Regions from separate parts of the Homo sapiens genome. Here region 1 is linked to region 2. Evidence: fine-mapped expression QTL. A gene starts in region 2. The other region holds a variant in brackets. All regions are shown on one strand. Distances are between the middles of the regions.

Evidence for each region. PIP is the estimated chance that this variant, and not a neighbour inherited with it, causes the effect.
Region 1: its variant is the best candidate, but not a certain one, in a credible set for the expression of CIMIP2B in nasal epithelium (TOPMed, PIP 0.66).

Annotation. Positions count from the first base shown.
Region 1 is chr9:35,539,284-35,544,661 of GRCh38, forward strand. All of the region lies in intron 1 of RUSC2 (RUN and SH3 domain containing 2), which reads left to right. Among named protein-coding and RNA genes, the nearest start is that of CIMIP2B, 22 kb to the right of the region's middle. The variant A/G (reference allele first, on the strand shown) is at 2,457.
Region 2 is chr9:35,561,719-35,567,096 of GRCh38, forward strand. It overlaps CIMIP2B (ciliary microtubule inner protein 2B), which reads right to left and starts at 2,160. Exons shown (of 6, transcript NM_001164310.3): 1 at 2,049-2,160; 2 at 1,448-1,671; 3 at 1,157-1,362; 4 at 931-982; 5 at 662-856; 6 at 113-377. The coding sequence starts at 2,110. The coding sequence ends at 289. It overlaps RUSC2 (RUN and SH3 domain containing 2), which reads left to right. Exons shown (of 12, transcript NM_014806.5): 12 at 1-177.

The DNA of each region.
Region 1 (5,378 bases), 22 kb before region 2:
CATACATTTGGGCTATGGTGCAGAGATGGGGAAAAGCCAAGGCTTGGGCTAATGCCATTTATGCTATTTTGTCAAGAAGCAGATCTCATCCTTCCTTTTTGGGCATTTCTAATGAAGCTTCTAGTATGGGTCAGGGATGGGGGAGTCAGATCTAGAAACAAAGGCTTAATAGGAGGAGACACCCCTACAGCTACTGTAAGTTTATGATGGAGAACATGCAAGGATCCTCGCAGCTTTCAAGAGGAGGGCTGGGAAACCTTTCTCTCCACACACACACATACATACATACATGCATGCATGCATGCACATAGCTATACATGCACATAGACACACATACCATATCTTCTGGTGCTATGGGAGCCACCAGGCTCCAGGTAAGGGTGGAGTAAGAAAACATTGACCAGGGTGCCCCACAGTGTCTGGCAGGGGCAGGGACAGTCATTGTAATGCCTAGGGCACCTGATCTGTTACAGTAAGCCTTCAAGAAGAGACCTAAGCATAAGCTAACACTCCCAAATCTACCCTCCTGCCCTCCTCCCTTTGATCCTACCCAGGAGAGGACCAGTCAGGAAAAGCGTTATCAGTCCTACAGAGGCACCTTATCAGGATCTCAAGTCAAGGTCAGATTGCTAGAGAAGAGCAATTGAAGACCATTGTGTTCCCCATCTTTATTCAGAAGGCCAAAAAAGAGGGAAGGGGTTCTATGACTGGCAGAAAGACACTGATGACCAAAGCTAGAGGAAACCTTCTTTCTGGGGTTTTCCCGCCCAGAGTTGCTCCATTGCTGAGCAGGTAGAAAGAGTTCCCTAAATTCCCATTTCCACACCTGTAATCCCAGCACTTTGAGAGGCTGGGATGGGAGGATCACTTGAGCCTAGGAGTTGAGACCAGCCTGGGCAACATGGTGAAACCCTGTCTCTACAAAAAATTTAAAAATTAGCCAGGCATTGTGGTGTGCACCTGTAGTCCCAGCTACTAAGGAGGCTGGGTGGGAGGATCACTTGAGCCCAGGAGTTCAAGGTGCAGTGAGCTATGATCGCATCACTGCACTGTAGCCTAAGCAACAAAGCTAGACTCTGTCTGTAAAAAATAATTGTAAAAAAATTCCCATTTCTAATAACCACCTTGGTAGAGGGTTCAAAAACATAGGATAATAGGAGACAGTAGTGCCATGTTGTGCAACTATATGGTTAAGGAATATGCTGGATAGTTATGGGAGTGTATTTGTTCCCAGGAAGTGTCTAGGAATGTGAACCACAAGAGCAGGGAATAATGAGCCTTGAGACCATGAATGGGGCAGGGAGATGAGGGCTGGGAACTGGGGCAGGAGGTGGGATTGGCAAGTGTTATCATAGCCTGGGGACAGTATGAAAGGGACTGTAGGTTCATAGAATAGAGAGGCCGGTAGACATAACCTGTGTAAATGGAGGCTGAAATGTGGGTCTACCCAGGACAGGTAGGAAGCAGATGCTCTGGGAGCAGAGTAATTGCAAGGACTTTAGGAAGAGGGTGTGGCCCCAATCATTTTCTTTGGAAGGCCGTTGTAGTGGAAATAATTACAAATTGGGCAGACCTGGGATTGAATCCCATCTCAGATGTGTAAATGTGGACAAACTACTTACACACTCTAAGCTTTGGTTTTCTCATCTTTACAATGGGAAGGATTATGCCTACTTAAAAATGTTACAGTACATTTAGAGATGATATATATAAATTAATGGCACATAAGTGTTTAATAAATGATCACTTATAGTATTATAATAGGACAAGAGACACCCATTTGGGACAAGGGCCAGGAAAAGGGCTCTCATAGAAAGCTTTTCCTGATTTTGGAGAGCATGACCTCATAACTTTATACTGGCTGAGCCCACCATTCCACTCTACCTGGTAGGCATAGCTAGAGGGCTCATCTTCTGAAAGAGCTGTCTTCTACTTTCTTCTTATTCTGGATCCTCTGTTTCTCCCCCATCCTCATCTTCCATGTCTCTCCATTTAGTCAGGGCAGAAAAAGTCTGAAATGAGCTCTTCCAGCTCACTGTTTTCTCTTCACCTTCATTAGAGGGGATGGGCCACTTGTCTTGATGTAGAAAAAGTCACTCCCAGGAAAGGAGCCTGAGATACGCTCTCAGTAAATGTTCTCTGTGGTGTCATATGTACAGTTTACTCTCATTTTTTTTTTTTAAGACAGACTCTCGCTTTGTCGCCCAGGCTGGAGTGCAGTGGCACGATCTCGGCTCACTGCAACCTCCGCCTCCTGGGTTCAAGTAATTCTCCTGCCTCAGCCTCCCAAGTAGCTGGGATTACAGGAGCGTGCCACCACACCCAGCTAATTTTTGTATTTTCAGTAAAGACAGGGTTTCACCATGTTGGCCAGGATGTTCTCAATCTCTTGACCTCATGATCCACCTGCCTCAGCCTCCCAAAGTGCTGGGATTACAGGTGTGAGCCCCCATGCT[A/G]GGTCTACTCTCATTATATTCTTAACTGACCAAGAAAAAAGATCAAAAGTTAGGATTCCTGAGTCTCATCTTAATTCTGTTATTTATTCACTGAGTGGTCTTGGGCAAGTCATTTCATTTTTCTGGGTGTATAATTATTTTAAAATTTTTATATATATAAAATTTTTTTAAATTATTTTTATATCATATAACATTTTTTAAAATTTTATAAATATAAAAATAATTCCTTATTTTTAAAAATGAAGATGGCTCTGCCTCCTTTGGAAGTTGATGTAAGGATCAGTAAGATATGCATACATAAAAAGTGCCTTGTAAGTAAATGTGAATGGGGTGGGCAAAGCATGAGTACAAAATCTCATGAGATGCCTGGAGAACTTCCCCTTAGATGGCTGAATTGGAATCGTCTATGGAGGAGCCATTGCTCGGCCTTTCTCTTGGTTGTGTGGAGATCAGAAAGGAATAAGATCTTCTCTGAGATACAAAAGCATAAAATAAAATGAAATCAATCAGTGAAAGAGCTTGACAGTTAAAGTAGGATTCAATACAACCTAAATGTAAAAGCTACAACTATACAGCTTTTAGAAGAAAACATAGGTACATTTCTTTATGGTCTTAGGACAGGTAAAGATTTCTTAGGATACAGAAAGATTTAACCATAGAGAAACAAACTCTATGATCAGTTGATCAATTGATCAATTTAAATTTAATAAATTAAAAACTATTTATCAAAAAACACAGTTAAGAAAACAGGGACAAGCCACAGGCTGAGAGAAAATATTCATGAGGCATATATCTGACAGAGGACTTGTATCCAGAATAAATGTTAAAACTCCTATAATTCAATCATAAAAAGACTAACAACTCAGGTTATTTTAATGGGAAAAGTAGTCAACAAATAACCAGGCACCTACTGTGTTCCAAGCACAGAGTTCACTGTATTGCAGTCTCCAACCTCAGAACTGTGCTCCAGTCTGGGAGATAGATATGTCAACATCACATTACAATACAATTGTCAGTGCCCTCCAGCCAAGGGCTCCGTCATCTCCCACGCTCATGTGTTCTTCATCTCTGATTTAGAGAGTCAGCTTTCTGCATTCTGTATCTGTACATCAGTTTTTCCATATTAATGCATGTATGTCCTGGTAATGGTTTTGTGGCAGAATCATACATTCTTTTATGTGATACTTGTGAATGCCTCTTGAAAATGCTTTAAAAAGGAAGAAAAGGTACTCATTGAAGGTCAGTGATGGCTGCAACCCATAGGTACCCCTAAAATTACTGCTATCTATGTAAGAAAGTTCTCTATGCTCCTTTTAGTCCAGACTCGGGATTATGGCCAGGACTCCAGGGGAAACGTAGTTATGTATGAAAGGAGAAACCCCCTCAAAGAAAAAAAATTGTTTAGGCCCGGCATGGTGGCTCACATCTGTAATCCTAGCACTTTGGAAGGCCAAGGCAGGTGGATAACTTGAGCCCAAGAGTTCAAGACCAGCCTTGGCAACATGGAGAAACCATGTCTCTACAAAAAATACAGAAATTAGCCAGGCGTGGTGGCACACACCTGTGGTCCTAGCTACTCAGGAGGCTGAGGTGGATCACTTGAGTCCAAGAGGCTGAGGCTGCAGTGAGCCATGATCGCACCACTGCACTCCAGCCTCGGTGATAGAGTGAGAACCTGTCTCAAAAAAAAGAAAAAAATTGCTTAAATTATGCATAAAATGGGTATTTATTACATACAAATTAGAAAATACAGCTGAAGCAAAAAGAATAAAATTAAAAATAATCCAAATCATTCAACAGTGATAGGCACTGGTAACAGTTTGTTGCATGTTACAGATTTTCTTCTATGCATACAGACATGTTTATTTACAAAAATGGTGACAAACACCTGGCTAATTTTTGTATTTTTAGTAGAGACAGGGCTTCACCATGTTGGCCAGGCTGGTCTTGAACTCTTGACCTCAAATGATCCGCCCGCCTCAGCCTCCCAAAGTGCTGGGATTACAGGCATGAGCCACCACGCCTGGCCTGATTTCAGGACATTCTATTTCTATGGATTTGCCTATTCTGGACATTTCATATAAATGGAATCATACAACATCACAAAAGCCCTTTGTGACTGGCTTCGATTGTGCCCAATTTTTTGGCTACTGTGAATAATGCTGTTATGAACATTTGTGTACAAGCTTTAGTGTGAACATATGTTTTCATTTTTCTTGGGTATATACCCAGGAGTGCAGTTGCTGGGTCATGTGATGACACTATGTTTAACATTTTGATAAACTGTCAGACTTTTCCAAAGTAGCTGCACCATTTTACAATACTCCCGGCAATGTTTCAGGGTTCCAGTTTCTTCATATCATCATCAACATTTGCTAGTTGTTATTGTCTGTATTTCTTATTTTATCCCTCCCAGCTGGAGTGAAGTAGTATCTCATTGTGATTTTTATTACTCTAATGACTAATGATGTTGAACATCTTTTCATGTGCTGGTTAGACACTTGTATGTCTTCTTCAGAGAAATGCCTATTCATACTGTTTGCCCTGTCTTAAACTGGATCATATGTCTTTTTTTTTTTTTTTTTTTGAGACAGAGTCTCACTCTGTCACCAGGCTGGAGTGCTGTGGCATGATCTCAGCTCACTGCAACCTCTGACTCTCTAGTTCAAGCGATTCTCCTGCCTCAGCCTCCCAAGTAGCTGGGATTACAGGCATGCACTACCACGCCCAGCTAATTTTTATATTTTTAGTAGAGATGGGATTTCACCATGTCGGCCAGGATGGTCTCTGTCTCCTGACCTCATGATTCTCCCACCTCGGCCTCCCAAAGTGTTAGGATTACGGGCGTGAGCCACTGTGCCCAGCCTCGTATGTCTTTTTATTGTTGAGTTGTAAGAGTTCTTTATATATTCTGATTAGAAG
Region 2 (5,378 bases):
AGGTGGAGATGAGGATGGGTAACAGTATTGGGGCCAGATCCCTAAGCCCCCCAGCTGTAAATAGGCTGTGGCCAGTGCCTGGTCATCAGAAGAGGGAGGAGGAGCCCAGGCGTCTGTTTATGTATTTATTTATTTATTTATTATACCTATTAATAAAAAAGGTGCTCAGCCTCCAAACCATTTTCTCTTTGTGTTCCCCCACCCTCCCACCCTCCCACCCACCTCTCTCCCTTCCAAAAGGATGGCTGGGATAGGATGAAAAGGGAAGGGAACTTGATGTCCAGTGGCCTAAGCCAAGAGCTGCTTCTGGAAGGTGCTGAGGCCCAGAGCATCATGGGTGAGATGGCCAAATGTGTGGCCAAACTGGAACTTATACCCTGTGTGGCCAAGAGAGTCTGTCACATGTAGCAAGTGGCATGGCAAAGCCATTTAATTCTCAGCCAGTTGGCTAGACCTCCAAACAGCCCTCTAAAATCTGGCCCTAATTCCCCACTGTGGGTAGCTACCTCGGTTTCCTTTTCTGCCTGATAATAAAGCTGAACCACATGATCTGAGCCCTCCCATATCTATTAGTTTCAACCCCCACAAACCACCCAACCCACCCCATACCCATACAAACAAACATTCCAGTCCCCAAAGCCTCCCCGGGGGCTCTTCTCACCTGGCACGTAGCCCCCATAGTTAGGTAAAAGACCCAGGTTCTGAGGGTATGTTCTGGGAAGTGGGGGGAGATGTTTGGGGTCCTGGGCACTGCCTGGTGAGTGCTTCTGCCCAAATTCCTGCAGTGCCTGGTTGGTGAGCACAGGAAAGCTGGAGCCGAAGAGGAAGCGGGCGCAGGGCACATAGCCAGTGAAGCCTGAGGATGGGGACACTGAGCCAAGGCATCCTGGGGCCTCCCCACGCCTCTGATCCTGACCCCCCAGCTCTCACCTGACATGAAGAACTTCCGAGGGTCCCTGTCATCCATGGAGTAGGGAGAAGCCTGTGAGAGAAGCCCCTGTGCTGTCACACAATCTCCCAAGGAGGTGGAGCTGACAATCAAGTGCACATCCCCTGAACCCACAGCCACACTACTCATGCTGCCCCCACTGCCCGGACACACAGTAAGACCCCCACTCCCACACCTCTGCACTCCCCACCAGCTTCTTGGTCTCACTTGTTCCACCACCTCCAGTGTCGGCTCCTCCAGCTGCCCCTCCGGCTCTGGCACCTGGTCCTTCTCTGTGTCCTTTCTTCCCTTGGCCTCCTTTGGTAGCTCTTCACTCCCTTGCTTTTCATGCAAGTGAGTAAAGTCACTCAGAGCCTCGGCCCAGACCTGGCTGCAGTTCTTGGCAAAGATGAACTGTGCCCGGGGTACAAAACCTGGGCAGGCAGGGACAAGGAAGACTCGTTAGTGTTTGGAACACATGCTCCTGGGAGGGGCACCTGTGCATACCTGCGTACAAACCTGTGTACCCAGGGATCATGCTGGAGCTGAGCCTTTCTTGCCCACGCCTGACAGGTAGACTCTCCCTGGGAACCTCAGGAGATCTTGGAGGCCGAATGGGAGGCAGAAGTGTGCGGTGGACAGGGGGCCAGGCTAGGCCAGGAGGGCCTCGAAGTAGCTGACCAGTCACCTGCCCATAGGTCTGGCCCACGCTGAACCGAAGTAGTGGGCAGTGTCCAGTGTACCTGCAGCACAGACTCTCCCACTCACCAGAATCGCCCTGCCCCGCCATCCCCAGAGGCAGAAGCGGAGACCTCTGAAGCCCTGATCTTTCTGGACTCAGCAGTGTATATATTTGGAGCAGGCATTTCTAAGTTCTCTGCCTGGGCTTTCGATCCTTCCTCTGCTGTTACCCTGTTCCCATGGAGAGAACAACACAAAGCTTTGGGGCAGACCCGGTGTCTCACTAGTCCCTTGCTTCTCCTTTTCCATCCACCACCATAGAGACCTCAGCCTCCCAAACCAACCTGTCCGCTTGGCCCCATGCTCTAAGCAGCTTAATTCCTCCACCCTATACCCCTACTCCCAGCAGCAAGCGGGGAGCGCTAAGTGGGAGTCTTACCCTGGGATATAATGAGGGTTCTGAGGGTTGAGCCCTGGTATGAAGGTGCTGGCCACAGCCATGGGGAGCCGGGCATTTCCTTTTGTTTGCCTTTGAGCCAAGGCTCTGGTCTGTGTGTACCGTGTCCAGGGCTGTGGGGCTAGAGGAAGGAGGCGGGGCTAAGGGAGGAGAGAAGGGAGGGGGCACTCGTGTGAGGACAGCCAGGGCGAAGGCCGGCAGAACTGTAGAGCAGAGGCTAGCAGGTCTGTCTGTCCAGGACAAAGGTGGTCCTGCTCGTGGGGCAGGGCCCGAACCGAAGGAAGCCCTGAGGTGGGACGTGGGAGGTGGGACGTGGGAGGTGAGGGAGCAGAAACCATTCGGGCCACTGAGCTCTGTCTCAGCGACTTCCTTCCTGAGCGCCTGCCTGAGAGGTGGACACTGTGTTCCTCATGAGTCTTCATCAAAGGAGATGGGGGACCTGGAGAAAGGATCTTTGAGGGAAGCCAGGGCCCAGAGGGGAGGTGAAAGAGGACAGGTGATGGGGGAAAAAAAGGAACCTAGACACCTCTAGGGAGTAACATCGTTTATTTTCAATAATTTAACAAGAGTGGCTTACTGAATACCTGCTATAATCAGAGTCATCCATTCAACAAATGAGCCAGGCTCTGCCAGGCTCCGGCCACAGTGGCCGAGTGTGCACTCCATGGGAGCCAGAAAAGCTGTGGGGGTTGAGGGAAGGAAACAGGATAAAGTTGTTGTAGGTGTGGGCGGTAACACTAGGGAGCAAGTTAGAATTTGTTAAAAAAATAAAATAAAATAAAAAATTCGGATTCTAAGAGAAGAAAAAGCACAGACCAGGAAGATGAGATCTCAGAGGACGGGGAAACATGTTTAAAACCCAACTCTGGGCCGGGTGCAGCCACGCTCACATCAACGTACTGAGGAGGCTGAGGTGGGAGGATCACTTGGGTCCGGGAGTTTCAGTCCAAACTGGGCAACACAGCCAGACCCCACCTCAAAAAACAAAACAAAACAAAAAGTTCTGGGGCTGGGTCAGGGCCAGGCTGAGGGCTCAGGGCCCACGTTTCTGAGGCAGAGCTCTGCTCTTCTCCCCACCTCCAGTGACCATGCCTGCGCTGACCAAGGACGGCACTGACATCCCAGGGGAATTACATAAGAGCACTGGGCTCCAAGGCACACATTTCATGTTCCTCACTGTTCTGCCAAGGACAGCCTTAGAATGTGTCATTTAGAGTTGTGGGGACTTACCTCACAGCTGAGGAAATATGTTAGAGTGAGGATGGGAGCCGAGGGGCAAGCCCAGAATAGCAGCAGTGTGTCAAGCTTAACAACCAGACTTGGGATTCTGTGACAGACACTATCACAGCTTATACCTATTCCTGACCCCCATCTCCTTTCTTCCGAGGAGCCAGAAACTGCATCAGGGAGGCTTGGAGAGCCAGCCTGGAGGAATGAGCTGGATTAGTCTAAGCGTGGTCCCATGCTCCTTCCCCATGACCGCTTAGGCACGGGCTTCCAGCATTCTGGATAATATGAGGGGAAATCTGCTGGGGCAGGGGAGGGTCCTGGGAAAAGTTTCTTTGCTCTTAAAGAAAAGATTCACATCAAATTAGAGCAAGTGAGAGAGACAGAGATGCGCAAGACGAAACGATGTCCATTCCTGCCCCTAGACTTTTGGGGGATGTGAGGCTGGAATGCTGGCAGGCATGTGGAAGCCTTGTGGAAAGCTAACCTGAAGACAAGTCCTGGACACATCAAGGATGGATGGTAGAGGAGAAAGGCCAGGGTCCTGAGGGTAATGTAGAGCCATGGAATTAATCAGCCTTTTTATGTCAAATAGTAAATTTCATTATTAAGGCCACTTTAAGTTTTCTTTCACTTACAGCCAAAGGCATCATAACTTTAAAAAACAAAACAGCCAGGCACGGTGGCTCACACCCTTAATCCCAGCACTTTGGGAGGCCGAGGCAGGAGGATCACAAGGTCATGAGTTCGAGACCAGCCTGGCCAACATAGTGAAATCCTGTCTCTACTAAAAATACAAAAATTAGCCAAGCGTGGTGGTGGGCACCTGTAGTCCCAGCTACTCAGGAGGTTGAGGCAGGAGAATCACATGAACCCAGGAGGTGGAGCTTGCAGTGAGCTGAGATCGCACATTGCACTCCAGCTTGGGCAACAGAGTGAGACTCCGTCTCAAAAACAAAACAAAACAAAAAAACACCACTAGATCAAATCCTAGCTTCACCAGAGATATAGACTTTGTCCAAATTCATCTCATTGAGCCTCAGTTTTCTCATCTGTAAAATGGAAAAACTAATGTTACCATCTCATAGAGTAGGATATCAGCTAGCTGAGATGATACACAATGAGCAATGACCCCAGCGTCTAGCTTACGGTAAGTGCTAACTAAACAGCAATTCACGGCTAGCATTTGGCAGGAATGGGAGGAAGGAAAGGAGCTGGGAGCAGTCACAGATGTTAGAGGTTCAGGGGAAAGGTTCATGAAATTGAAAAAGGGAAAGGTTTGAATGGAAGTTGGGGTATAAATTAGGATGTAGGGACTAGAACACATTCTGCAGAAAAGACCATGGCAGTTAGAATCCGGGTATGCGTTAAAACACAAGTTAGGAAACAGATTAGGATTAGTCTTAGGTTTATGGCTTATGAAGAAACAGCTCTATCCAATTGGTAGAATGGCCTGTTACTATGATTGTTTCCATCTGAATAAAGAATATTTCTAGATCCCTGAAGGGTGTTCTAATCTGAGAAAGGAGTGACGGGGCCAGCTGAGGCACCACAGGAATGCTTGCTGCCTCTGTGCCTCCTTCCAGGGACAGACATCACAGAAACATGACCACAACTTGCTCTGATGGGAGCTGCCACACCCAGTGGCCAGTGTTGGATGTGGCAGTGGAGAGAAAATGTTTAACTGGAGACAGCGCCCCACTCAGTCCACACAGCCTGCTGGGTCCCCACAATGGCAGCCTATAGCCTTCTGTTCTGCCTTTGATTCTGACCAGGAACTGCTATAAAATTTCATACAGATCCCAAATCAATCATTTGATTGTATGTCAACCCTAGGCAAGCATAAATCCCCTCTGCAAGGATGAATAAAAGAAAATCACAGGACCTTTGAAAAAATTCCTGAAATCAACAGTCCACCAAAATTGAAACAAGAATTGAATAAACTCCAAAAGATTACATGCAACACAAAACCTTTTTTAGTTTGAAAAATACATGCAGATGCATAAAACTGCATAAAAAGGAAAGCAAGGGAATGATAAAAATGGGTTTCAAATGCTCACCTCAGATGGTGAGAAACAAAAGGGG